Linked DNA regions of Homo sapiens. The protein of the gene in region 4 purifies or fractionates together with the protein of the main gene of each other region. This does not show direct contact. Each region holds a gene or a part of one and is shown on either strand. Other genes may lie near its edges. The genes, in order: MYO9A, CEP164, PIK3C2A, CRYL1, C5orf34, SMG7 and HAUS5.

The links.
Region 1: the proteins of CRYL1 (region 4) and MYO9A purify together in Homo sapiens (affinity purification with mass spectrometry; 2 studies listed by BioGRID and IntAct, with this or other methods). This does not show direct contact.
Region 2: the proteins of CRYL1 (region 4) and CEP164 purify together in Homo sapiens (affinity purification with mass spectrometry; 2 studies listed by BioGRID and IntAct, with this or other methods). This does not show direct contact.
Region 3: the proteins of CRYL1 (region 4) and PIK3C2A purify together in Homo sapiens (affinity purification with mass spectrometry; 2 studies listed by BioGRID and IntAct, with this or other methods). This does not show direct contact.
Region 5: the proteins of CRYL1 (region 4) and C5orf34 purify together in Homo sapiens (affinity purification with mass spectrometry; 2 studies listed by BioGRID and IntAct, with this or other methods). This does not show direct contact.
Region 6: the proteins of CRYL1 (region 4) and SMG7 purify together in Homo sapiens (affinity purification with mass spectrometry; 2 studies listed by BioGRID and IntAct, with this or other methods). This does not show direct contact.
Region 7: the proteins of CRYL1 (region 4) and HAUS5 purify together in Homo sapiens (affinity purification with mass spectrometry; 2 studies listed by BioGRID and IntAct, with this or other methods). This does not show direct contact.

Annotation. Positions count from the first base shown.
Region 1 is NC_000015.10:72,108,151-72,111,650, forward strand, and holds part of MYO9A (unconventional myosin-IXa), read right to left. Parts: intron 1-3,500. UniProt on the Homo sapiens protein: Myosins are actin-based motor molecules with ATPase activity. Unconventional myosins serve in intracellular movements. Regulates Rho by stimulating it's GTPase activity in neurons.
Region 2 is NC_000011.10:117,410,810-117,413,766, reverse strand, and holds the end of CEP164 (centrosomal protein of 164 kDa), read right to left. Parts: intron 2,940-2,957; coding exon 2,873-2,939; intron 2,470-2,872; coding exon of another isoform or gene 2,445-2,469; exon of another isoform or gene 1,973-2,444; coding exon 1,850-1,972; intron 1,696-1,849; coding exon 1,599-1,695; 3' UTR 501-1,598; downstream 1-500. UniProt on the Homo sapiens protein: Plays a role in microtubule organization and/or maintenance for the formation of primary cilia (PC), a microtubule-based structure that protrudes from the surface of epithelial cells. Plays a critical role in G2/M checkpoint and nuclear divisions.
Region 3 is NC_000011.10:17,086,075-17,089,530, reverse strand, and holds the end of PIK3C2A (phosphatidylinositol 4-phosphate 3-kinase C2 domain-containing subunit alpha), read left to right. Parts: 3' UTR 1-2,956; downstream 2,957-3,456.
Region 4 is NC_000013.11:20,407,358-20,410,857, reverse strand, and holds part of CRYL1 (lambda-crystallin homolog), read left to right. Parts: intron 1-3,500. UniProt on the Homo sapiens protein: Has high L-gulonate 3-dehydrogenase activity. It also exhibits low dehydrogenase activity toward L-3-hydroxybutyrate (HBA) and L-threonate.
Region 5 is NC_000005.10:43,501,649-43,505,148, forward strand, and holds part of C5orf34 (uncharacterized protein C5orf34), read right to left. Parts: intron 2,113-3,500; coding exon 2,017-2,112; intron 848-2,016; coding exon 724-847; intron 1-723.
Region 6 is NC_000001.11:183,475,499-183,478,998, reverse strand, and holds part of SMG7 (nonsense-mediated mRNA decay factor SMG7), read right to left. Parts: intron 1-3,500. UniProt on the Homo sapiens protein: Plays a role in nonsense-mediated mRNA decay. Recruits UPF1 to cytoplasmic mRNA decay bodies.
Region 7 is NC_000019.10:35,611,358-35,615,534, reverse strand, and holds the start of HAUS5 (HAUS augmin-like complex subunit 5), read right to left. Parts: upstream 2,801-4,177; 5' UTR 2,741-2,800; coding exon 2,643-2,740; intron 1,806-2,642; coding exon 1,743-1,805; intron 1,668-1,742; coding exon 1,635-1,667; intron 1,501-1,634; coding exon 1,476-1,500; exon of another isoform or gene 1,401-1,475; intron 494-1,400; coding exon 388-493; intron 309-387; coding exon 149-308; intron 1-148.

The DNA.
Region 1 (3,500 bases), on a different chromosome or scaffold from region 4:
TCAGTCCCACAGATTATTGTACATAACAGGAGAAAAAATTTACTTTTAAAATGGAGACATAAGCAAACACCACCTTAAACCTATCGAACTTACATCACTGATAGGAGGACAGCTGACATTATGTGCCTCCCATTAACACACAACATGATATACAACATCACCTACAGAGTGTTCTTGCCAAAACTTTTTAATATGAATCTATTCAATCCTTTACAATATAACTTCCAGTTTACAGGACATACAAGCACCAGAAGAACAAGTTAAACAATCTAAGAAACAATCAGAAAACTCTAGAAAACAGGCCATTCTACAAGATGATTGGTCTCTTCAAAGACATTTCAATGTCACAGGGAAGAGAAATGTGGGAAGGAACTTCCTACATTGAGAGACTAAAAAGAGATAATCAAATGAAATGCAAAAACTAAAAGTGAGTTCTCTTTTGAAAAAAACATTTTTCAGGACAGTTGGGAAAATTCAAATATAAATTCAATATTAAATTAGGGTATTATTTTTCCTAGGTGTTGGTAATAGCACACTGGTGATACGAAAAATATGTATTTCTTAGAAAATATATACGAAGTATTTTGCAGTAAACTTGTCATGACACATACATTTTTTTTTTTTTTTTTGAGACAGAGTTTCACTCTTGTCACCCAGGCTGGAGGGCAATGGTGCAATCTCAGCTCACCACAACCTCCACCTCCCAGGTTGAAGTGATTCTCCTGCCTCAGTCTCCCGAGTAGCTGGGATTATAAGCACCCACCACCACGCCCAGCTAATTTTTGTATTTTTAGTAAAGACAGGGTTTCACCATGTTGGCCAGGCTGGTCTCAAACTCCTGACCTCAGGTGATCCACCTGCCTCGGCTTTCCAAAGTGCTGGGGTTACAGATGTGAGTCACGGCACCCAGCCGCAACTTACTTTCAAAAGGTTCTGCAAAAATATATACAATCACAGCCGGGCGTGGTGGCTCAGGCCTGTAATCCCAGCATTCTGGGAGGCCGAGGCAGCAGGCAGATCATGAGGTCAGGAGGTCGAGACCATCCTGACTAACACCGTGAAACGCCACCTCTACTAAAAATATAAAAAATTAGCCAGGCGTGGTGGCGGGTGCCTGTAGTCCCAGCTACTCGGGAGGCTGAGGCAGGAGAATGGTGTGAACCCAGGAGGTGGAGCATGCAGTGAGCCAAGATCATGCCACTGCACTCCAGCCTGGGTGACAGAGCAAGGCTCTGTCTAAAAAAAAAAAAAAAATACACACACACAATCACACAGGGAACAATAATGCAAATATGGATGGCATAACGCTATCTTTTGAATCTAGTTGATAGACATAATTAGTGTTCTCTTCCAACTTTTCTATTTCTTTAAGATCTTAATTATAAAACAATAGGGGAGGGAAGAAAGAGAACTAAAAGAAAACAGAGTTGCAAAAGCAAAATAAGACAAAAATATTAGTCGGGTGCAGTGGTTCACGCCTGTAATCACAGCATTTTGGGAGGCCAAGGCAGGCGGATCGCTTGAGGTCAGCAGTTTGAGACCAGTCTGGCCAATATGGTGAAACCCTGTCTCTATTAAAAATACAAAAATTAGCTGAGTGTGGTGGCACACACCTGTAATCCCAGCTACTTGGGACGCTGAGGCACAAGAATCAAGAATCACTTGAACCTCGAAAGTGGAGGCTGCAGTGAGCCAAGATCGCACCACTGCACTGTAGCCTGGGCGACAGAGCAAGACTCTGTCTCACAAAAAAATAAATAAATAAATAAGGCAAAAAAAATCTAAAAATCGTTTATAAACATGTCCACACAGTCACCTAAGAACTTTCTCCCTTACATTAAAAAAAAAAAAAAAATCTAGCCAGGCAGCGTAGTGGCACACATCTGTAGTACCAGCTACTCAGGAGGTTGAAGTGGGAGGACTGCTTGAGCCCAGGAGCTTGAGTCCAGCCTGGGCAATACAGTGAGATGCTGTCTCAAGAAAAAAACAAAAAGGAAATTCCAGGCCGGGTGTGGTGGCTCACACCTGTAATCCCAGCACTTTGGGAGGCCGAGGCAGGTAGATTACCTGAGGTCAGCAGTTGAAGACCTTCCTGGCCAACATGGCAAAACCCCATCTCTACTAAAAATACAAAAATTAGCTGGGCACGGTGGCAGGCACCTGTAATCCCAGCTACTTGGGAGGCTGAGGCAGGAGAATCACTTGAACCCGGAAGCCGGAGGTTGCAGTGAGCCGAAATTGCACCACTGCACTCCAGCCTGGGAGACAGAGCAAGACTCCATCTCAAAAAAAAAAAAAAAAAAAAAAAGAAAATTCCAGAGATTACTCAGCCCACTATCATCTGATCAATAAAAATAAACAGATTTCAAACAAATACTTACACACTACAAACAGCAATAGTACTAAAATCTGTCAATTATTTAAGGAATGTTTGTCATTGACAAACAGAACACATTTTGTTATGATAACTCACACTGAATCAAATACATTCTAAAATCCATTAATCTTATATGCTAAGACATCAAGAGAAGCATTTCTTTGCAGTATTTTTTCAAAAATATTTTTTAAATGCCCCAATGCCACAAGAAATATTTTAACTGAAAAAAATCACACTTGAAAGACAACTAGTAGACAGACTGCCCTAATATCTGCTTCTTTTAGCAACAAACTTTGATTAGCCATTTATTCTAAAAGCCACACAGTGAAATTCTTAAAATTCTTGATTTCGGCCGGGCATGGTGGCTCACGCCTGTAATCCCAGCACTTTGGGAGGCCGAAGCGGGCGGATCACAAGGTCAGGAGATCGAGACCATCCTGACTAACATGGTGAAGCCCTGTCTCTACTAAAAATACAAAAAATTAGCCGGGAGTGGTGGCAGGTGCCTGTATTCCCAGCTACTCGGGAGGCTGAGGCAGGAGAATGGCGTGAACCTGGGAGGCAGAGCTTGCAGTGAGCCGAGATTGCACCCCTGCACTCCAGCCTGGGCAACAGAGCGAGACTCCATCTCAAAAAAAAAAAAAAATTATTGATTTCACATTTAAACATAACAAGAAATAGGCTGCGCACAGTGGCTCACACCTATAATCCCAGCATTTTGGGAGGCCAAGGCAGGCAGATCGCTTGAGGTCAGGAGTTCAAGACCAGCTTGGTCAATATGGTGAAATCCTGTCTCTACTAAAAATACAAAATTAGCCGGGCATGGTGGCGTGCACCTGTAGTCCCAGCTACTCGGGAGGCTGAGGCACGAGAATCACTTGAACCCAGGAGGCAGAGGTTGCAGTGAGCCGAGATTGCGCCACTGCACTCCAGCCTGGGTGACAGAGTGAGATTGTCTTAAAAAAAAAAAAAAATTAATAAATAAAACAGGAAATAGACGTATTCAAGAGGGAAAAGGAAGACTTACTGAGTACCTACTATATGCTTGGTGCTTTACATAAAAATTTTTTTAACTCCAATGATAGTCTTATGAGGCAAATATTACCCCCAATTTTTTTTTTTT
Region 2 (2,957 bases), on a different chromosome or scaffold from region 4:
CACATGTAGGGAGCTCAGCTACTTTACTGGGGACCCCAGGCATGTAAAGGTTCTCTAAGCCTTGGTTTCCTCGTCCATAAAAACAGAGGAGAAAATATCTACATCAATATCTACATTGTTGCGATGATTAAATCAGATACTACATAGGGCAGTGTTCTATGAATATTCATTTTTCCTTCCTCCCTTCTCAGGAAGGAGGCAAAGGCCTCCCAAAAGAAGGAGACACATTTACATGACTGCCTTGTAGAAAATGGACCTGCAGAGATTTAAATGATGCAGAAAATACCCAGGATTATCACTAGAGTTGGTGCACCACATAAGCTATTCCCAAAGCACACATGATGAAACGGAGTTTTCTATGTAGTGGGCTGATGCTTAAAAGGCATCTGAGGAGATCAACAGCCAGTTGGATCTTAGTTTCTTATTCCATGACCACGAAATGAGTTGGAGGACGGAAGGAGTTAATTTGTGTGTCAGAGAAGCAAGGGCAACCCCACAGCTTGCAAAAAAAAAAACAAAAATAAGTGCATTTTATTTAAACAACGGAACAAACATCAGAGAGCATCCCCTGCAAAGCCCCCACCCCAGAGCCTGCTGATGGAAGCGGGGCTGCAGGACGCTCTGCCACAACGGCAGCATCTCCAACTGCACAAAGACCCCTTGCTGCCAGGGCCGGGCACCGGCCTAGCTCCTTGCCTGCCTGCCTGAGGCAGCCGTGGAATCAGGGCAGGGGTGGCACAGGTAGAAAAGACAGATGGAAACAATGCCCATGAATATACCCAAAGTGTCCCAGGAGGATAAAAGCCATCATGAGGACCAGAAGCCAACCCAGTCTTTTTTTGGCCTCCTGGAGAAGTTGTTTTTGAGACCTGAGACTCCAGCTGAAATGGCTCCCTGAGGAGCCCCAGGGAGCAGGAGGGGTGTTCTGAGGACAGCCCCTGAGGAAAACACAGTGCCTGCAGAGGGACAGCCCCCAGCACCCTCCGGCAGGGCTCTGGACAGCTAAGCCCAGTCCTGAGAGGGTCAAAAAGAGAGATGGAATGCTCAAGAAAAGAGGCATTTAAAAATTAAGAGAAGAAAGACAAAAAAGAAAGGGTCTGATCTGAGGCTGAGGTATTGGAGATAGATGTGGGCCCAGAGAAATCGGGTCCCAGGGTACACACATGCTGGGGGTCTTTGTCCTGATGAATTAAGAACCATACACACAACCTCCTTGGGAGCCCCGAGCAGTGCGCTGCAGGGCCAAGGAAACAACCAGCTCCAAAGGGACTCCCTGAGCCTCCGAAGGCAGCTCCTCTAACGCCTCCCTTCCTCCCAAAGGGCTCCCGGCCCTGATACCCCGCAGCCACCGCACGCCATCAGCTTGCCATGTCAATGACAAGAGCTCGTACGAGTCCACACATTTTAGCCTGAGATAGGTTATATAGTCACAGAATGTGTGGCTTTACTGTTCCACTCAACCCCCTGGTCCCTGGTGGCTCCTGCAAGTCAAAGGGGGAAGGAGGGTGCTTTCTCAGATGGAAGAAGGCAGGCAGCTCCTCAGGCACTTGGTCTGGGTGGAGGAGAGGCTGGGCTGCCCCAAGCCCCTGCTCAGGGCCTCAGAAGCGATACACCTTCACTCTGTTGTGCTCATCAAGGCCCAGCTGCAGGAGGCTCAAAGTAGCTTTTGGCTTGGGTGTTGACGAGAAGAGAGGTCTGGCCACAAGGTGAAGGAAAACTGCAGTCGCTGGGCATAGCCAGGCAGGGGCCATGAAAGGGTCAAAGGCTGAACAGGATCCTCCTCAGCCCCTCAGGGCACAAGCACAGTCCCCACAGCCCAGCCCAGTTTGGGAACCAGGTAAAAGGATACAACCTGGGGTCATTCTTGACACGTTCCAGCCACCTCCGGTTGGCCTCAATTATGCCCTGAAAGGTGGTGCTGCCCGCCTCAGGGACTTGCGAATGGGAGTGCTGTAGGAGCCGGAGCTGCTCACTGGGAAGGAAGAGGAGAGCATGGCGAGGGGAGAGAGGAGGCGCGGAAGTGACAGAGGATGCACAGAGGCCATCACATCTGTCACCTCCTCCCTCTTTCTCTCAGCTACCAGAGCAGCTTCTCCGAGGTCCCTAGCAATTCAAAGCTTCAAAACATCTGCCCCTCCAGAACAGTTCCCAAACGGGAAAGTGGTGGAGGCCCTCTGCCCCCTTGCTGGGTGCTACTGATACAAGGCTCTGGGCTCCCACATCCGCCTGCTCCCGCCAATCTCATCAGCAAAGCGCTCCCCTCTGTCAACTCAATCCTTGGCCAGCATCAGCTCTCAAGTTGGCCAAAGGGTTAGTGGGGGGTACTCACTGTTAGCTGCCTAAGGGAGGGAGAGGGGAAAACATTTGGCAAGGAATGAGATGAATGGAAAATTAATAACAGGTTTAAATAATTGCCCGTCTGTCTCCTCCACAGGGTGTCCCTCTCACTCCAGATGTTGCTCAGCAGGACTGGGGGAATAAGGGAGCCACAGGAAGCAAACAAGAGCTCAAGGGCAAAGACAAAGGCCAGACTCCGGGGCTGGAGGGGCTAGAGGGAGGGGCGGGGGCAGGGTCCCACCAGGGGCTGACTCCTCCCCACAGGGGCCAGAGGGCAGCTTCCTCAGGGGGTTGGCAGGGTAAGCCCAGCCCTTCCCCACTGGGACCTTGGCGGTGTGAACTTGACTTTCCCCTGGTCATGGAGGGGCGCCTCAGACCCAGGCAAGCGGGGACAGCTCTGTGGACTAGAGGCCTGCCTGATTTCTTGGGGTAAGACCAGGAGGTCTGCTCCCCTCAGAGGTCCACCTGCCCAGGGAGGCACAGTGAGCAGCTCGACTATGACGTTCCACCCCAACCAGCCCCCAGGGAGGCTCACCTGGCAGACATGTAACCCAGCCTGCTCTCCAGCGGGGTGGGGCTGTTGCTGAGCAGCGGGATGCCAGCTGGAAGAGCATGGGGAC
Region 3 (3,456 bases), on a different chromosome or scaffold from region 4:
AAGCCATTGCTGTTTTAAAGTCATTATGTAGAATGCTACAAACCCTAAACTTAATATATACTAATTCCTGAAAAAGACTTTGAGACAGTACTATGTCAGTTCAGCCACCTATTTTGCATTGTTTTCTATAAGGAGGCAAAGCATATGTGTTTTCCTGTTATGCACCTTTTATAGCCTTTACCACTGTGTAATGTTCACAAACACCAAAGTAAAGGAAAAATGCAGGATGTTACCGTAAAATCCAGCTGCTATTCATGGAGCTGAAAAACAAAGCACAAATAATAGATAGCTAAGTTAAGAACTACTAAGTAGTTTATAGAAGTAGGGAAAAACGTAATACTGCTTTTTATTCATGTCTTTAAAGCCTTTTTCAGAATAAGTGCCAATCACTGATGTTGTAAATAATGGTGCCTTAACTTTATATGCTTCCCTGGCACTTCGTTTCTGATTTTTTTCCTGATTTGATAAATAATTAGTACATAGTTTTCACTCACTTGCAGCTTACTAAAGACAAGAAATTATGTACATGTACTAATGTTTTTCCCACAAAAAAATCCTTTACTTCTGATGTATGAATTAGTTATCTAAATAGTTAAGCCTAATACCTGAATAAGACTCACCAATGTGATTGTACAATAAATTCTATCATTCCATTAAAATCCTACATTTATTCCCAGGAATGGTAATTTCACCTCCCTACATCTATACTCCACTCCCTCAGTAAATAAGTGAAAATTGTTAACCCATGTGCCCATTCCTGAGTAGGGCAGACTCTTCACAAGAGGCCCATGACAAGAATTCTAGGGTCCAGATTGAACTTTAATATAGACCTTTGTCTGTGTAGACCAGTTTGTCTTGTAAACTGTCTTACTTATGTGTGTAAACATTTTACATTCACATGAAAAGTTATTTTCCTTTATATAATTGGATTCAGAATCATAAGGGACAGGACTGAAATTATTCTACAGTAACCAGTAAGAATAAGATTCGGCCGGGCACGGTGGCTCCTGCCTGTAATCCCAACACTTTGGGAGGCCAAGGTGGGCGGATCACCTGAGGTCAGGAGTTTGAGACCAGCCTGGCCAACATGGTGAAACCCCGTCTCTACACAAAAATTAGCCAGGCGTGGTAGCGGGCATCTGTAATCCCAGCTACTTGGGGGGCTGAGGCAGGAGAATCGCTTGAACCCAGGAGGCGGAGGTTGCAGTGAGCCGAGATCACGCCACTGCACTCCCGCCTGGGTGACAAGAGCAAAACTCCATCTTAAAAAAAAAGAAAAAAAGAGTAAGATTCATTTTTATTAGTTACTCAACTTCAGACACAATTTTGTTAATTTGGATATATACATATATATAATAAGAACTCATGGTTAGAATAGAAATACAGATACTTTAAAAATGGTAATAGAAATTGTACCAATCAGGTTGCTGTGAGAAAACTGACAAAATATGCAATAAAGAATACCAAGAGAGAAAGGACAATCGCCAATTCAGTTTCCCAGAACAGAATTTTTATGAACTGCACAAATGTTTAATGTAAATGGTGATACCTACAGGGAAGAAATAGAAGAGTTGATAATATATCACTGGGACGGGGTGGGGGAAAGACTTGAAATTTTTGGTGCCTAACACTAATGGTCCATATGTAGTTAAACCCATGAGTATGGTATATGAATGTCTTTTTTAAATGTTAAAATGTGTTGTCTATTTAATGTTAATTAAAATGCAGATCAAAGCACCACCATTTGCTTTTTCCACAGATCATTAACATTTCCTTAAAGTATGTAAGTACCTTTGCAAATGCAAATGTACTAGTAATTTTCACTTAAGCTTTTGAGACCGAATTCCATTCCACCAGTTATCACTTAGCCACTGTAATTTAAAAACAAACAAACAAACAAAAACTGTCTTGGTAGAGGTCGTTAATTAGACTCAACATGTACTGCCTTTTTGCAGTCTATTATGACAGTGTCTTTTAGCACAAATAATAGAGCTAAAAAATGTCCTGTCACTTCCATTATAAGAAATCTGGATTCATATCTAAGTGTATATTATAATACTGTACAGTTAAGAGTTCAGAACAAGTGGTAATGTTTTCTCTTAATTTAACTCATTTTGTGCCTTCTTTACTCATTCAAACACACATACATTTTACATATAGTTTATTTCTTTATGAAATGCTAATCTTCAGCCCGTACCAAAAAGTAGAGTGGAGCCTCTTTGCACTACTACTATCAATAAATTTTAAATCAGTTGGATTTTTAAGCATTTTTTAAAAGCTGACATTAAAGTAAATCTAAAAAAAGTTTAACAAACTGGCCAAGACACTAATTTTTATGTATAATCACAATATTTTATACTCACCTTTATTGACTAAAAATAATTATGCTACATGTTGTCCTGCATCAGAAGAATTATTTCTTCTTGCCAGTGTTTTGGGATTTGAAGATAATGGTTCACTCAAAGAACCTATTATTTTCTCTACTGAGGAACCCAATGTAGAACTTGCACTGATATTTTTATTACTGCCTTTATATGAATCTATAGGTATCTAAATGTTAAGGCATGTATGATCTTTGATCATTTCTTTTTTCAAATTAAAGTTGTATAAAAGTTTCAATATCTTGCCTTAAATTAGTTGCCTATTCTTTCTAGGATTCAAATATTGTGACATTTAAAAAAGAAAACATTCACTTTTGAAACTTAGACTTCAGATCAAAAAGGACTGAACCCCCACTATCATAATCCATACATTCATTTCCATGTTGTTTGACTAGCAGTGCATATATGAATGAATATGGTAATTAATCTTACCTATAAGAACCAAATACTTTAATTATATTAAGATAGTGAATAAAGATGTATAATATTTTTATTAATACCTTGAATATATTCAGTGGATTGAATGTGACTTCATAACTGTACTACGATTGTATTAAAATATTTCTGGAATAAAAGAACTCTGCTATCATTTCTTTCCTTGTTGACATACTAACATTTTTGGTTCCAGACTTTGCAATGAGCTCACTCTTGATGTTCTTTGCATCTCACCCAGGAGTCTATTAGGTTTAATAATCCTGAATTTCAGAACTAACCTGTTAGTTGCCCCTAAAAATGTTCAAATAGAGATTCTGACTTCTGAGTGTTAACTCTTTTTTTTTTTTGAGACAGAGTCTTACTTTGTCTCCCAGGCCTGGAGTGCAGTGGCGACATCTCGGCTCACTGCAACCTCCATCTCCTGGGTTAAAGCGATTCTCCTGCCTCAGCTTCCTGAGTAGCTGGAACTACAGGCACACACAACCACGCCCGGCTAATTTTTGTATTTTTAGTGTAGCAGGACAAGCCGCAGACAAAACTCCTCAGACGCGGAGTTAAAGGAAGGGGTTTATTCGGCCGCGGGCATTGGCAAGACTCCTGTCTCGAGCCGAGCCCCCCCAGGGAGCAATTCCTGTCCCTT
Region 4 (3,500 bases):
CTGTATAACCTTGGGCAAATGACTTAAGTTCACTGCATCTCAGTTTCCCCATCTGTGAAATGGGGACAACAGTAACTGCTTCCTCAGGGTGGTGTGAGAATTGAACCAGATGGAAGCTCTTAGCTGGATTGCTGGCACCTGTTAAGTCCTTAATATATGTTATATTCAAACAGAGCTTTGTCTTGTTTCTTTCACGTACTACTTTTCTAGTTTTTTTCGTTGTTGTTTTATTTTTGGTTTTTAAAATTCTTCCAAAAAGATTCACAAGTGCAGAGAGAGGAATAAATACAGATTAGGATTTTATTTATTTATTTATTTATTATTATTATACTGTAAGTTTTAGGGTACATGTGCACAATGTGCAGGTTAGTTACATATGTATACATGTGCCATGCTGGTGCGCTGCACCCACTAACTCGTCATCTAGCATTAGGTATATCTCCCAATGCTATCCCTCCCCCCTCCCCCCACCCCACTACAGTCCCCAGAGTGTGATGTTCCCCTTCCTGTGTTCATGTGTTCTCATTGTTCAATTCCCACCTATGAGTGAGAATATGCGGTGTTGGGTTTTTTTGTTCTTGCGATAGTTTACTGAGAATGATGATTTCCAATTTCATCCATGTCCTTACAGAGGACATGAACTCATCATTTTTATGGCTGCATAGTATTCCATGGTGTATATGTGCCACATTTTCTTAATCCAGTCTATCATTGTTGGACATTTGGGTTGGTTCCAAGTCTTTGCTATTGTGAATAATGCCGCTATAAACATACGTGTGCATGTATCTTTATAGCAGCATGATTTATAGTCCTTTGGGTATATACCCAGTAATGGGATGGCTGGGTCAAATGGTATTTCTAGTTCTAGATCCCTGAGGAATCGCCACACAGACTTCCACAATGGTTGAACTAGTTTACAGTCCCACCAACAGTGTAAAAGTGTTCCTATTTCTCCACATCCTCTCCGGCACCTATTGTTTCTTGACTTTTTAATGATTGCCATTCTAACTGGTGTGAGATGGTATCTCATTGTGGTTTTGATTTGCATTTCTCTGATGGCCAGTGATGGTGAGCATTTTTTCATGTGTTTTTTGGCTGCATAAATGTCTTCTTTTGAGAAGTGTCTGTTCATGTCCTTCGCCCACTTTTTGATGGGGTTGTTTGCTTTTTTCTTGTAAATTTGTTTGAGTTCATTGTAGATTCTGGATATTAGCCCTTTGTCAGATGAGTAGGTTGTGAAAATTTTCTCCCATTTTGTAGGTTGCCTGTTCACTCTGATGGTAGTTTCTTTTGCTGTGCAGAAGCTCTTGAGTTTAATTAGATCCCATTTGTCAATTTTGGCTTTTGTTGCCATTGCTTTTGGTGTTTTAGACATGAAGTCCTTGCCCATGCCTATGTCCTGAATGGTAATGCCTAGGTTTTCTTCTAGGGTTTTTATGGTTTTAGGTTTAAAGTCTTTAATGGTTTATGTTAAAGTCTTTTATGGTTTAAGTCTTTAATCCATCTTGAATTGATTTTTGTATAAGGTGTAAGGAAGGGATCCAGTTTCAGCTTTCTACCTATGGCTAGCCAGTTTTCCCAGCACCATTTATTAAATAGGGAATCCGTTCCCCATTGCTTGTTTTTCTCAGGTTTGTCAAAGATCAGATAGTTGTAGATATGCAGCATTATTTCTGAGGGCTCTGTTCTGTTCCATTGATCTATATCTCTGTTTTGGTACCAGTACCATGCTGTTTTGGTTACTGTAGCCTTGTAGTATAGCTTGAAGTCAGGTAGTGTGATGCCTCCAGCTTTGTTCTTTTGGCTTAGGACTGACTTGGTGATGCGGGCTCTGTTTTGGTTCCATATGAACTTTAAAGTAGTTTTTTCCAATTCTGTGAAGAAAGTCATTGGTAGCTTGATGGGGATGGCATTGAATCTGTAAATTACCTTGGGCAGTGTGGCCATTTTCATGATATTGATTCTTCCTACCCATGAGCATGGAATGCTCTTCCATTTGTTTGTATCCTCTTTTATTTCCTTGAGCAGTGGTTTGTAGTTCTCCTTGAAGAGGTCCTTCACATCCCTTGTAAGTTGGATTCCTAGGTATTTTATTCTCTTTGAAGCAATTGTGAATGGGAGTTCACTCATGATTTGGCTCTCTGTTTGTCTGTTGTTGGTGTATAAGAATGCAGGCCAAAATCTCCTTAAGCTGATAAGCAACTTCAGCAAAGTCTCAGGATACAAAATCAATGTACAAAAATCACAAGATTAGGATTTTTGCTATGGCATGGAGAAGCCTCTGGAACCAGGTACCTAGAGTTTCCCAGCCGGGTTTGTTTCTTTGCTAAGCTTTAGACTCGCAGGTCAGTAGAGAGAGAAACCGCTCAGCCTTGTCCCTGGGGCTGTTTGGGTTCCTCCTGCATTTTGTTCCACTTGAAATGAGGACATCTCAGAATCTGGCAGCGTGGAAATCGCCTCCAGGGGAAGTGGATGTTTATTTACCATTTTGCCTCACAGATTTCCTCTCCTGTGTAGACACTTGCCTTTTTCAAAACTGAGATGCCTGGTGGCTGGTGGGTTTGGTTGATTGATGGGAAGCAATTATTTGCCAGCCAGTGGAAGCAGGTGAGCTGATGGGCGGGGACTTGCTGAGGTGAGGTGAGGGGCCCGGGTCGGTTCTGCCTCCCCTACCCTGGGCAAGTCCTCACTCAGGTGGGAATTTGATCCTGAGAGTAGGAATGAGATAATGTCGCTCTGTGCTTTGAGGCATTTTTGATCTTCCTTAATGAGTTCTGTGAAACCCTGTCTCTAAAAAGCAGGTGAATTCATACAGGTGTGGGTTCATAGCTGCGTGAAAGAAAACCGGACTTCCCATGTATGGGTGGCAATTAAGGCTCTCCAAGGAGCTGATGCCTGGAATCCCTCCTAGTGGCTGTGGCCTCGGGCTGGGGTTAAGGCCTCCTCTGGTGCCTGCTGCATACATGGGAACAGAAAGGATTCCTGCCTGTGCACCTGGGGCATTCAAACCCACTGTCCCTCAGAGGCCCACAGCCCAAGGCTCGCAAGTTAGAAAGCAGCAAGTTAAGCTACATCCAATCTCATGAGAATCAATTCTTTTTTCTACTCTTTGTCTTTTTCTGGATAAGCATCTCTTAAGAAATTAGGTTCAGAATCTTCTAAAAAGCCAAGCTCTACAAGGGTTTTGGAAGAATTAGAACTCAAAGGGACAGAGGGCATGGAAGCACAGAAGAAAAAATACAGGGGAGGCTGGATTAGATAGAAATAGTGGGGAAGGGCAGACCAGGGGATCAAAAGTGAAGTGGGCTGTGTTGTATTTTTCCTATTTCCAAAGAAATTGGCATTTTAGAGTAATTTACACCCAATTCTCCTCTCGTGGTGTAGAGAAGCCAAAATAATTGTTGAAAATAAATTACACCTCCCTAAAATGGAAGGGGAGGAGTTGCAAATAACAGTCACAGTCATAAGTTTACTGGGACATGGTTGTAAATAATCAGGCA
Region 5 (3,500 bases), on a different chromosome or scaffold from region 4:
ATGTTTGAAATTTCCATAGTTAAAAAAATCTCAATTTTTAACTCTATTCCCTAGGGATTCTGATAATCTGATTAGTATTTAAATACTCCACTCTGTAATGAAGAGAGAAAACATACTTATTTTGTTCTAGCATGCAAAGTAGTGTGATACTATAGTGATTGCTGTGAAATGGTAGATGTCAAATATCAGAGGGGCAATAAGCAAATTAAAACTCATTAACAAAATATTGACATTATTAAGACTATGGGCTGGTAATTATACCATGTTATGTTTCACTGTTTTCAGCAACAGAGAACAATCTTATTCAACTGTCTAGTTGTATATAAAGATTTAGAAGTTAAGAGGTGCTTAAAATACACAATTACATGGTGGGGAAAAAAGAATGTGCTTTTGCTTTTTAATGTACAAATATTAATTCAAAGTAGTGTATTAACTCAAAGTCCTGGTTTCAGCATTTTCCATCAATAAAGTCTATGACAAAAGAAAGTTTCTGATTTAAACATGAACTGCTTAGGCAAATGGAGATAGCAGGTGAAAATACAGTAAAAATAAGGTGGTTAATAATTACTGTACCAATGCTGGCAGTAAGATTATATTAATACTCCAGACTGGGGAGTAGGAAGCAATGTTATATAATGACCAAATTTCCCATATATATTTGGAATTATTTAGAAAGAGCTATACAGCAAAACTCTTCTTGAGTTGAGTTCATTGTTGGCTTACCTTTCCTGATCCTTCTTGAATAGAATAATAAGTAAAATAGTTCCCAAAATAAGCCCCTTCTGATTTGAAAACAGATCCATCCCCAGAATAAATCTCTATTGAGTTCATATTTTGATGGGTAAGTCTAAGAAATAGAAATAACCATTAAAAATTTTTTTCCACTTGAGATTAAAACATGCATGAAGATAGTCATCAAAAAACAGTAACAACAAAATCTAAGCAAAACAACACAGTCTTTTTGCCTGTCCAGTGAAGCAGATAATTTCATATTCTGAACCCAACCAGCTAAATTAACTCTTTCACGAAAAGATAAATAGAATTGGCTTATGCATTTATTTCAACAACTAAACTAAGAACTTCTGGAATTCAGGCATCTTGTCTTATCATCTTCTTGATATCCCCACTGCTAATCACAAGGCTGGCATATAAGGGTCACCAAAGCAATGTCTATTGCATACGTGTTAAATACAACATTTCCAGAACCTGAAAATAGATTAATGAAACTAGCGGAATCAATACTTTATGGATAAGATTAGCCGTCTGCACAAGGGGCTATCCCTAAGAAAAGATGGCTGTACCTGGAGCAGCCAGGTACAATCAAGGTACTGGGTATATACCAAATAGAAACTTAAGCCAAGTTAATTTTATTAACATACATGTTAGAATATGTTGTTAGAAGGAATAGGTCTTCACATAGGAAAAGGAGAGCCCCCTCGCTCTCCAAAAATTTAGCAGTGCTCTTCTAGCATTGTTCATGGAAGTGAAACTCTCAATCTGGCTAACACTAGTATTCTAGTCACTAGAAGGGTGTCCTTTGTTGTGGGGTATGGATAATTCAATGGAACAGTGCTGGCACAGAGTGGCCACTCAATGAGTATTTGCTTTGTGAATGAAGGCTAAAATCTCCCTTAGGTGATCTAACTTCTCTAATTCCATGCTCAAGCAATTCTGTTTTGACTATTTCAAACAACTTGATCCTCCAATGCTTGGAAGGAGTATCCTAAATAACTGATATGAATGTTACATTCACTAGCAAACCAATCCCTCATTGGCTTTGGAGGTACCACATAAGTCTTATAAAAATGGTTAATGTGAGTGAGTCACAGGACCCTTGTGTGCACTAATAACATTAGTTTTGAGACCTGTAAAACTCAGGATCAAACACAGGAGCACAGTTGGCCCAACAGAACTGTGTCCTCTTCTGAGAGTCTGTCTATAAGGCTCGTCCCATCTTCTCTGTGACATCAATAAACAGCTCTAACTCCAACATAGAAGCCAACATAGGTGCCTTACCTATATGTAACACCTTTGTACCAAACCATTTTCACTAGTTCAGGATAGGAATATTCATCAGATTGTCTCTGTAAAAGTGAATCACAAAAATTCCACCTGTGAAGGATAAAATACAAGCTATTACTTCTGGTTGCTCAATATAATTGTCTTTAGAAGTCAACAAAATGTTGCTACTGTAACAGGATTAATTTCTTGTTTAACTCACTAGATCAAAGAATAAAAATTAATATGAAGGTATATTAATGAAATGTAAAAAGCAAGTCTTTTTCCATGTTTTTTTCACTATTTTCAATAATCTCATTATTGAATCTCAGCACAATTACATAAATTAACAGTTTTAATAACATTTAAAATTTAGCCTGGATTCGCTAGGCATGGTGGCTCATGCCTGTAATCCCAGCACTTTGGGAGGCCAAGGCGGGCGGATCACGAGGTCAGGAGTTTGAGATCAGCCTGACCAACATGGTGAAAACCCGTCTCTACTAAAAATACAAAAATTAGGCGTAGTGGCACGTGCCTGTAATCCCAGCTACTCAGGAGGCTGAGGCAGAAGAATCGCTTGAACCCGGGAGGCGGAGGTTGCAGTGAGCTGAGATCGCGCCAGCCTGGGTGACAGAGCGAGAATCCATCTCAAAAAAAAAAAAAAAAATTACTAAAATATCTATAGTGGGCCAAGCACTGTGCTATACACACTGTGGATATAACAACCAAAAAAATGTAGACATGGTCTCTGCCCTCAGCAGGGACATTAAATAATAAACATTGAGTGTAAAGAAGAGGCAAGTACTGCATGCTATGGAATTGTATAGGACTTAACTTGTTTAGGGTCTTCAGGAAAACCACTCTAAAGAAGTTAGGTTTAAGCTGAAACCTGGAAATGAGCATAATTTAGCCAGCTGAGAGAGAAAGAGAACACTCCTGCAGAGTAAAGAGTAGGTGCAGTGGTCACAGAGTGCTTGAGCAAGCATTTTAGGGATTGCTAAAGTCCAGCTTAGCAAGAATAGAGAAAGCAAGGGCAAGAGTAGTGAGAGAGTTGAGGATTACAGATATAGGAAGGGACCAGGTCACAAAAGACCTGGTAAGCTATGTGAAGGATCATGGATTTCAACCTAAACATCATGGTAAGTTATTGAAAAATCATTACTTTTGAAGCATAATTCCCTTTTGATGTGTACTCGTAATACTTTTCTCATTTTAACCAGATAATCATGACAAGCCTAACAGTCATTCCCATATTTTTGTTTTAAATAACAAATGTATACTCAGAGATTGCCTGGGATCAAATCTCAATTTTACAAGTACTAGCTGTGTACCTTTCCTCAAGTTATTTAACATTTCTATGTCGCAAGTTCCTCTACATATAGGGATGATACGTTTTTTAACTTCATGGGAATGCTTTGAGAATCAAACGGGTGAAGTCCAACAGTACCTGGCACATAAGTGTTTTGTAAGTGTTAGTTTTTATCATTATGATTTGCACTGTT
Region 6 (3,500 bases), on a different chromosome or scaffold from region 4:
TGCTTAGTTACAATTTCCCAGACAGCTGATAAGTCTATTCATAACAATACAGCAACTAAACTAAAATATGGCTTGACTGCAAAACTTTAATGGCAATATATAATGGCCATCTGCCAATATACCTACAAACAGATGAATAATCCACTATCTACAAGACGTATGCTTTATAATTTATTCTCTACACAAGATCAATTAAACTAACCCATCTAAACTTTCAGGCACTCATTCATGACACTAATACAAAAATTTGAAAGGCTAGCCGGAGGCAGGAAACAATTTTTCTCAAGTATAAAACACACCAGCCCTTTTAAAGTGTGAACCACTCTCCACCTCAAAACTGCCTCATGAAACTTGCAATACTAGTGGGTCCAGATCTTACTGTAACACATCCATTAAAAACAACAACATAAAACTCAGCAATTGCTTCTTCTACCATGAAGGCAGAAGACCACAGCTGTTAGAAAGCAAAGAAATGAAACCTAAGATAGGACAGGAAGTATACATTTTGAATCCAAATGAAACCACAAGGGAAGCAGAAATTAACTGCCAAAATAATTTAGTCAGACAATATCCAAGCAGGTAATAAGCTATTAACACTGTTATAACAAAGACTTATAAGCCTAAAGAGACAGTCATTCATTCAAAAAATGTCACCACCTTTGGCTGATATTCCGGGACAAAAGCTACTTTACATTCTGTAAAGCATGTACCTGGTGGAAAGGAAGGGGATGGGGCAGGTGAAGAAGACTTCGTGGACCACATGGACTAAAATCAGCATGTGCTCTAAGACTTCTAGAAGCTTCAGGATACAGTGACTATCTGATCTAGCATTACTAGACTCTTCTAGAACCTGGAGACCATCCTATTTATATATTCCTCCCAATGCTCCCACTATCTTCTCTGTTCCTCTCCCCAGGCTAGGATAAGGCTTAGCTTGCTACTTTATCCAGCCTTATCTCCACTATCTCTCTGTTTCAAGATTTATAGTGATACATTTTTATTTTATACCATATTGGATATTTTACTTCCTATTTAAATGACAACCATTTTTCTGCTGGCTTAGAAAACAACCCTGTGGCTGTTATATTAGTAACAAAACTTCTGACAAGTGAGCCACTGAGATGCAGCGTCTTCACTATACATGTATCATACAAAAAATATATGTATATATACACACATATGTGCATAGACACATATACATATATGTATACATACACACATACACACATGTATATATGCACACATATGCACACACATGTATATATGCATATATACACATGCACACACGTATATATGCATATATACACATATGCACACACGTATATATGCATATATACACATATGCACACACGTATATATGCATATATACACATATGCACACACGTATATATGCATATATACACATATGCACACACGTATATATGCATATATACACATATGCACACACGTATATATGCATATATACACATATGCACACACATGTATATATGCATATATACACATATGCACACACGTGTATATATGCATATATACACATATGCACACATGTATATATGTATATATACACATATGCACACATACACACACACACACACACACAAAACAAAACAGATACTTTCTGGACCTTTCCTGTAAAGGAGTCTAACAGTAGGAATCCACTTCAAGTGGATCTCACTGAAACACTCACAGCATAGGAAGAAATTAGAGACAAAAGAGAATAGTGAAGGAAGAAAAGGAGGAAAGTTGAAGGGAGCATAGAGTATGAACAGTGGCTCCCACAATGGCAGCAGAAGTCATTCGGTGGCACCTGTGCCACCTTTTATAACAGGATTTGACCTGTTTGACTGGTATTCCCTATAGCTATGATTATTCTACTTTCTCATCTTCCAAAACAACTTTGATGTCTTCTCTGTCTGGTACTTTAATACTTCCCCCACTCCTGCTTTTCCAACTTTGATATGTTAATTTCCACTTTTCTTTTTTTCAAAATGCCATTATTTTAAAGCATAATATTATACCTCACCTGCGGCCTATCCTAACCTTCTCCTACCCCCATCAAATGAATTGTATTCAATACACCCTTTCTTTTACTCAACAGAGGTGTCAAAGTCTTTTAAAATCTTTCATTCTGTCATAAATCAAAAGAGAAAATACTCTGAATTCTCCTTCAATTTGAGTAATAAATTCCCAATGTTATTCGGCCTAGAACCCTCATATTTAAGATCATATTTTTATTTTTATAAAACATAACAAAGTATTTTCAACTTAACTGATTCTCTTAGAAGTCTTGTCAGTGTATTAAAAAGATACTTACCTTTCAACAAACAAAAAATTTCATTATCCTTTCCTGCCCAGAATATCATCATCTTTCCCACATAGAAGATAGGTTTTCTTCCTTTCATCTCTGCTCTATTTTTATAACTTGAGACTAATTCAGTTCCCTTGATGTTGAATTCTCTCTTTATTGGTCTTACTGGGACTTCTTGCCTCCTATCTTCATTTCTGACCCTTCTGAAACAGCCATCTTGCTCCTTGGTTTCCCACCACCCCACCATTTCAATGCCAGACATCCCAGCTCATTTACTCTAACAAATTAAAATTCAGCCAAGACAAAACTAATTTTCATCTACATGAGGCAGGATCTGTAGCTATAGAGATTAAAAATTGCCCAGTCATGATCTTCCACCACTGACAAAGGTAGGCAAGAAAATTCTTCAAGTCAAGGTCACGAAAACAATTGCTACACCCCCCAACCACATCCATTCAGCAATACTCGGCATCCTCCCTGAAGTGTCTATAAAAACCAACAGTTCTATTTTCAAAGAACGTGAACATAATGCTTCCCTAAAGACATTCTCTAGTGTCCCCACTGCAGACTTTAAATGGAATGATTATCTAAAAGAGGAGGAGGGAAATTCAGACTGGCACAAGCCTTTATGATTCCCACAACCACCACCTAGGTCTCAGACTTCTAACACTTGTTTTAATTTACTTAGGACAAATGCCTAAGATTGAGACAAGACTGGCTCCAGGAATCTTTAAGGGACCCCAGGACCTATGCCTCCCCCATTTTGCCTGCTCAATTTTAGCTGAAAAATATCATTGTATTCATTTTTTTTCTCCCTTCTTCAAAGAACTAAGTTCATCTCAAACTATCATTGATTCCACATCTAAGGAAGTCTTCCCTACCATGTCAAGCTATAAAATATAAGGCACATTAACAAGAAGCCTCTCAAAGTCCACTGATCTTCCCCATTAAAAGTACCACCACTCTGCCAATTTGTTTTTCATAACTTTCTAGATCCACTGCCAGTACCTTATTCAGGACCAAAGTCCCAAAGGGAATCTTTTGTAAGGAAAAGAACCTTACAAAAAGGACCAATTTTGAAGTCTTCCCCTTTTCTAAGCAGTAGTCACTCCCCAATTAATGTCAGGCTCTAACAACCTTACTTTTCTCTGTTATCCACCACTACATTACACAGAGTCATTTTCCTAACACA
Region 7 (4,177 bases), on a different chromosome or scaffold from region 4:
GAGATGACAAAACCTCCTGGCCTCATGGACATTCCATCCTAATGGTTCCAGAATTCTGGAACCCAAGAAGGGATCAGGGCAGAGCCCTGAGGTCTCTAAGAGAATGTCTGGCCACCCAGCCTGGTGAGGGTGGGTCCCTGAGGCCCACCTCTCCATGTCCTGCAGGCGCCTCAGTTGATTCTGCAGCCGCTGCATGGGATCTCGGAGCGTATGCTGCTGTCTTCGCATGGCCCCAGCTTGGGCCCGGAGGAGGAGAGCTCGACGCTGGGTGTCTTGAGTGTGCTGACGTGCCTGCTCCATGGCCGTGTCTGTGGGAGGAACAGGGGTGGCCATCAGCACCTTTCCCGCCCCACATTCTGGTGCCCATCTTCTGGCCCCATGGCTCACCCTGAGCCTCAGTGTCTCGCTCCATCAGCTCCAGGCTCTGGTCGAGTTCCTGGATTTCTGCCCGCAGGCGGGTCACAGCAGCTTCCAGCTCTAACTTCCGACGGACCTGGGAGGATCAGATTCAGGGTCAGATGGTCTGATCGGGGCTCAGCCTGGCCTGTCTTTTGGGGGTACCAGGCTCCTCAACTGGTGGCAGAGGGTTTTTGCTCAGCAGTTTCTGTGTCTGACACAGAAGCATTAGGGTATTGGCTCCCTCCCTCCTTCCTCCTAGGATTGTCTTACCCACACTTCCAGCCTGTTTCCTGTCTGTGCTGGTGACAACCACATCTTTGTCCCAGTACTGATCTCTTCCCGGAGCCCTGCACCTAGAAGTCCCAAGGCCTCCTGGAAGCCTCCCCTTAGGTGTCATATGAGCCCCTTGCACCCATTGGGTCCCACACTGGCCTCAGCATCTCTCCCATACCTGTCCCATCATCTCTTCTCACCAGCTTTGATGCCACATATCCAGGTCCCACCTCTCTGCGCCCAGCTAATTAATGCTCTTTATTTATTTTTTCTTTTTTTGAGATAGAGTCTCGCTCTATTGCCCAGGCTGGAGTGCAGTAGTGCGATCTCAGCTCACTGCAACCTCTGCCTCCCAGGTTCAAGCGATTCTCCTGCCTCAGCCTCCCAAGTAGCTAGGATTACAGGCGTGTGCCACCACGCCTGGCTAATTTTTTATTTTTATTAGAGACAGGGCTTCACCGTGTTGGCCAGGCTGGTCTCGAACTCCTGACCTCAGGTGATCCGCCTCCCAAACCACATCTTTGTCCCAGTACTGATCGCTTCCTGGAGCCCTCAGGTGATCTCATCACCTGAGATGAGGCCTCAGGTGAGCCTCCCAAAGTGCTGGGATTACAGGTGTGAGCCACTGCACCTGGCTGAGCTAATGCTGTTTCCACTGGACTTTAAGCCCTATGAGGATGGAGATCAAGGCTGTCTTGTGACCCATTGTCCCCAGCATCACCCAGCACCTGGTTGGGCTTAGAGCAGAAGATCTACAAGTCATTTTTCGGATGAAAGAGAATCTTGTAGCATATGCTTCTCACCTGTGGACTGTCCTGGTGGCCATACCTAGGAAAACGAGGCCAGAGTCAGCGGATGAGTGGGGCTTCTAGGGGGGAGGGCAATAGGTGTGATGCTGTGGTGGGGACAGGGCTAAATGGGAGTGGGGAAGACAGGAGGGGATAGCTTTAAGAAGCAGTTACCAGAGTAGGTTTCCCCGGATCTTCTTGACAGTCCTACAGTGCAGAGGCAGAAAGAGGAGTTACTATGGGCCTCACCTGTGCCCCCTCCCCTGCTCTAGCCCAGCTTACCTCTGACTGTGCACATGCTGCAAGATGTAGGCCCAGATGTCAGCCCCCTGGCCCAGACACAGCCTGTGGGGACAGTGTGTAAGCATATGCCTGGGGCAGCACACAGGGTGTGGGATCCTCATTCCTAGGGTGATGGTGGTAGGGAGTTTTTACTAGGGAGTTCTCACTTCTTGAGGAGGGAAGGCCCAAACTTTTTTTTGCCTTTTTTTTTTTTTTTTTTTTAAGAGACAGTCTCGCTCTGTCGCAGTGGTACGATCATAGCTCCTTGCAGCCTCAACCTCCTGGGCTCATGCGATCCTCCCACCTCAGCCTCCAGAGTAGCTAGGACTACAGGCAGGCACCACTACACCCGGCTAATTGGTAAAACATTTTTTTTGTAGGGACTGGATGTTTGCACTAAGTGTGGTGTTATTCTCATTCCCTGGGAAGGCGGGTGGTGGGGGAGCGCGGGAGAGGCGGGTGCTCCCTTTCTCCTGGGAGTGGGTTATCCCAGTCACATCCAGAGGTGGAGGTGGGGGATGTACTGCCAGGAAGTGCCATCTCATGACCAGACGTGGGGCATCACTCCTACAGCTTCAATCCCCGATGGGGTGGCCACGGCTAACTCCTGAGTGTCCTTCTTGGTTAGGTTAAGGGAGGGAGGGGAGGTGCTGCGGGGACAGCCTCACTCTGGAGATCCTATTTCCATAAGGAGCGAGGTCTTAGCTAACTCGTGGAGGATCCTCACCAGTGCTAGGGACCTCACTCTGGGGAGCCTCCCAGGGTAGGGAGCCCTCAGTAAGTCGGGTCACTCTCGATGGGGAATTGGGGGGAGTCGAGTCCTCAATGAGGGGTGGAGTTCTCACTCCCGGAGACTCAATCTCCAGGGTGGGGTGTCCTCACTCCAGGAGCGGTCCTCACCTGCGCAGCGTCGATTCCGGGGCCCGGGCCGCCACGGGCACCCCCATCTCTTCGACCGCCCAGCAACCCAGTTCCCGCGCTTCCTGCGCTAGCTCCATGACAGCGCCGCGGCGGCGACACCGCCTCCCTCAGCCTCTTCAAGTGTGGCGCCCGCCTCTGACGTCACGGGCGCGCCAACAGTGACGTCATCGGTTGCCGGGCAGACAGCGGGCTCGGGCGCTGCATAGTAATCTTAGCGCGGTCAGGCTGGGTCTTGCAGCGCTCACTCTTCCCAGGTAGGTCTCCTTGAGTGGAAATGAAAAGGGCGTGGAGAGACTGCAGCCCCGCCCGCCTTCCCTCGTTCTCCCGCTCACTACCAGCTAACCCGAAAGAGGCAAAACAGTCCTTGATGCTTCCATTTATTTTCTTTTTCTTCTTTTAACTAAACACTTTTATTTTAATAGAGATGGGATCTCACTTGTTGCCCAGGCTAGTCTCAGCTTCTGGGCTCTTGAACTCCTGGGCTCAAGCGATCCTCCCGCCTCGGCCTCCCAAAATGTTGGGATTACAGGCGTGAGCCACCACGCTCACCCCCTTTATTTTCTTGACAAAATGGGACTTGCGTCCTAGGAGGACTGGAACCAGGCAATGAGATCCTGGACTTACTGCTCTTTGATTTCAGAAACAGGTGTCTCATGTCTGAGTGGAGGGTAGGGGCAGAGAGCATGACCCTAACATTTCCCTGGCATGCGTTTTCCCATTCATTCGTGCTTACCATTCCATAAACTCAGGGAGCTGACCCTGTGCTGGGTGATGCTGGGGACACCATGGTGACCACAACAGCCCTGGTCCCTATTGTACGGAGCTCACAGTTGAGTGGGGAGACAGACGCACCACCAGGTAGGGGTGGTAAAAATAAGCAGCAGGGGTGGGTCAATTTGGGACACAGCAGGTGTGAGAGGTCTGCGCTAGACCAGCAGTCCCCAACCTTTTGAGCATCAGGGACTGGTTTCATGGAAGACAATTTTTCCACAGTCTGGGGGATGGAGGGTGGGAGCAGTGGATGGTTTCGGGATGAAACTGTTCCACTTCAGGTCGTGAGGCATTATATTCTCTGTCTCTCTCTCTCTTTTTTTTTTTCTTCCCTGTTTTTTTTTTTGAGGTGAAGTCTCCCTCTTTCACCCAGGCTGGAGTGCAGTGGCCCGATCTCGGCTCAGCGCAATCTTTGCCTCCGGGGTTCAAGCGATTCTACTGCCTCAGCCTCCTGAGTAGCTGGGATTACAGGCGCCCGCTACCATGCCCAGCTAATTTTTGTATTTTTAGTAGAGACGGGGTTTCACCATGTTGGCCAGGCTGGTCTTGAACTCCTGACCTTAAGTGATCAGCCCATCTCAGCCTCCCAAAGTGCTAGCATTACAGGTGTGAGCCACCATGCCCCGCCTAAGCATTAGATTCTCATAAGGAGTGCGCAATCTAGATCCTTCGTATGCACAGTTCACAATAGGGTTTGCGCTCCTGTAAGAATCTAATGCCGCTCCTGATCTGGCAGGAGGTGG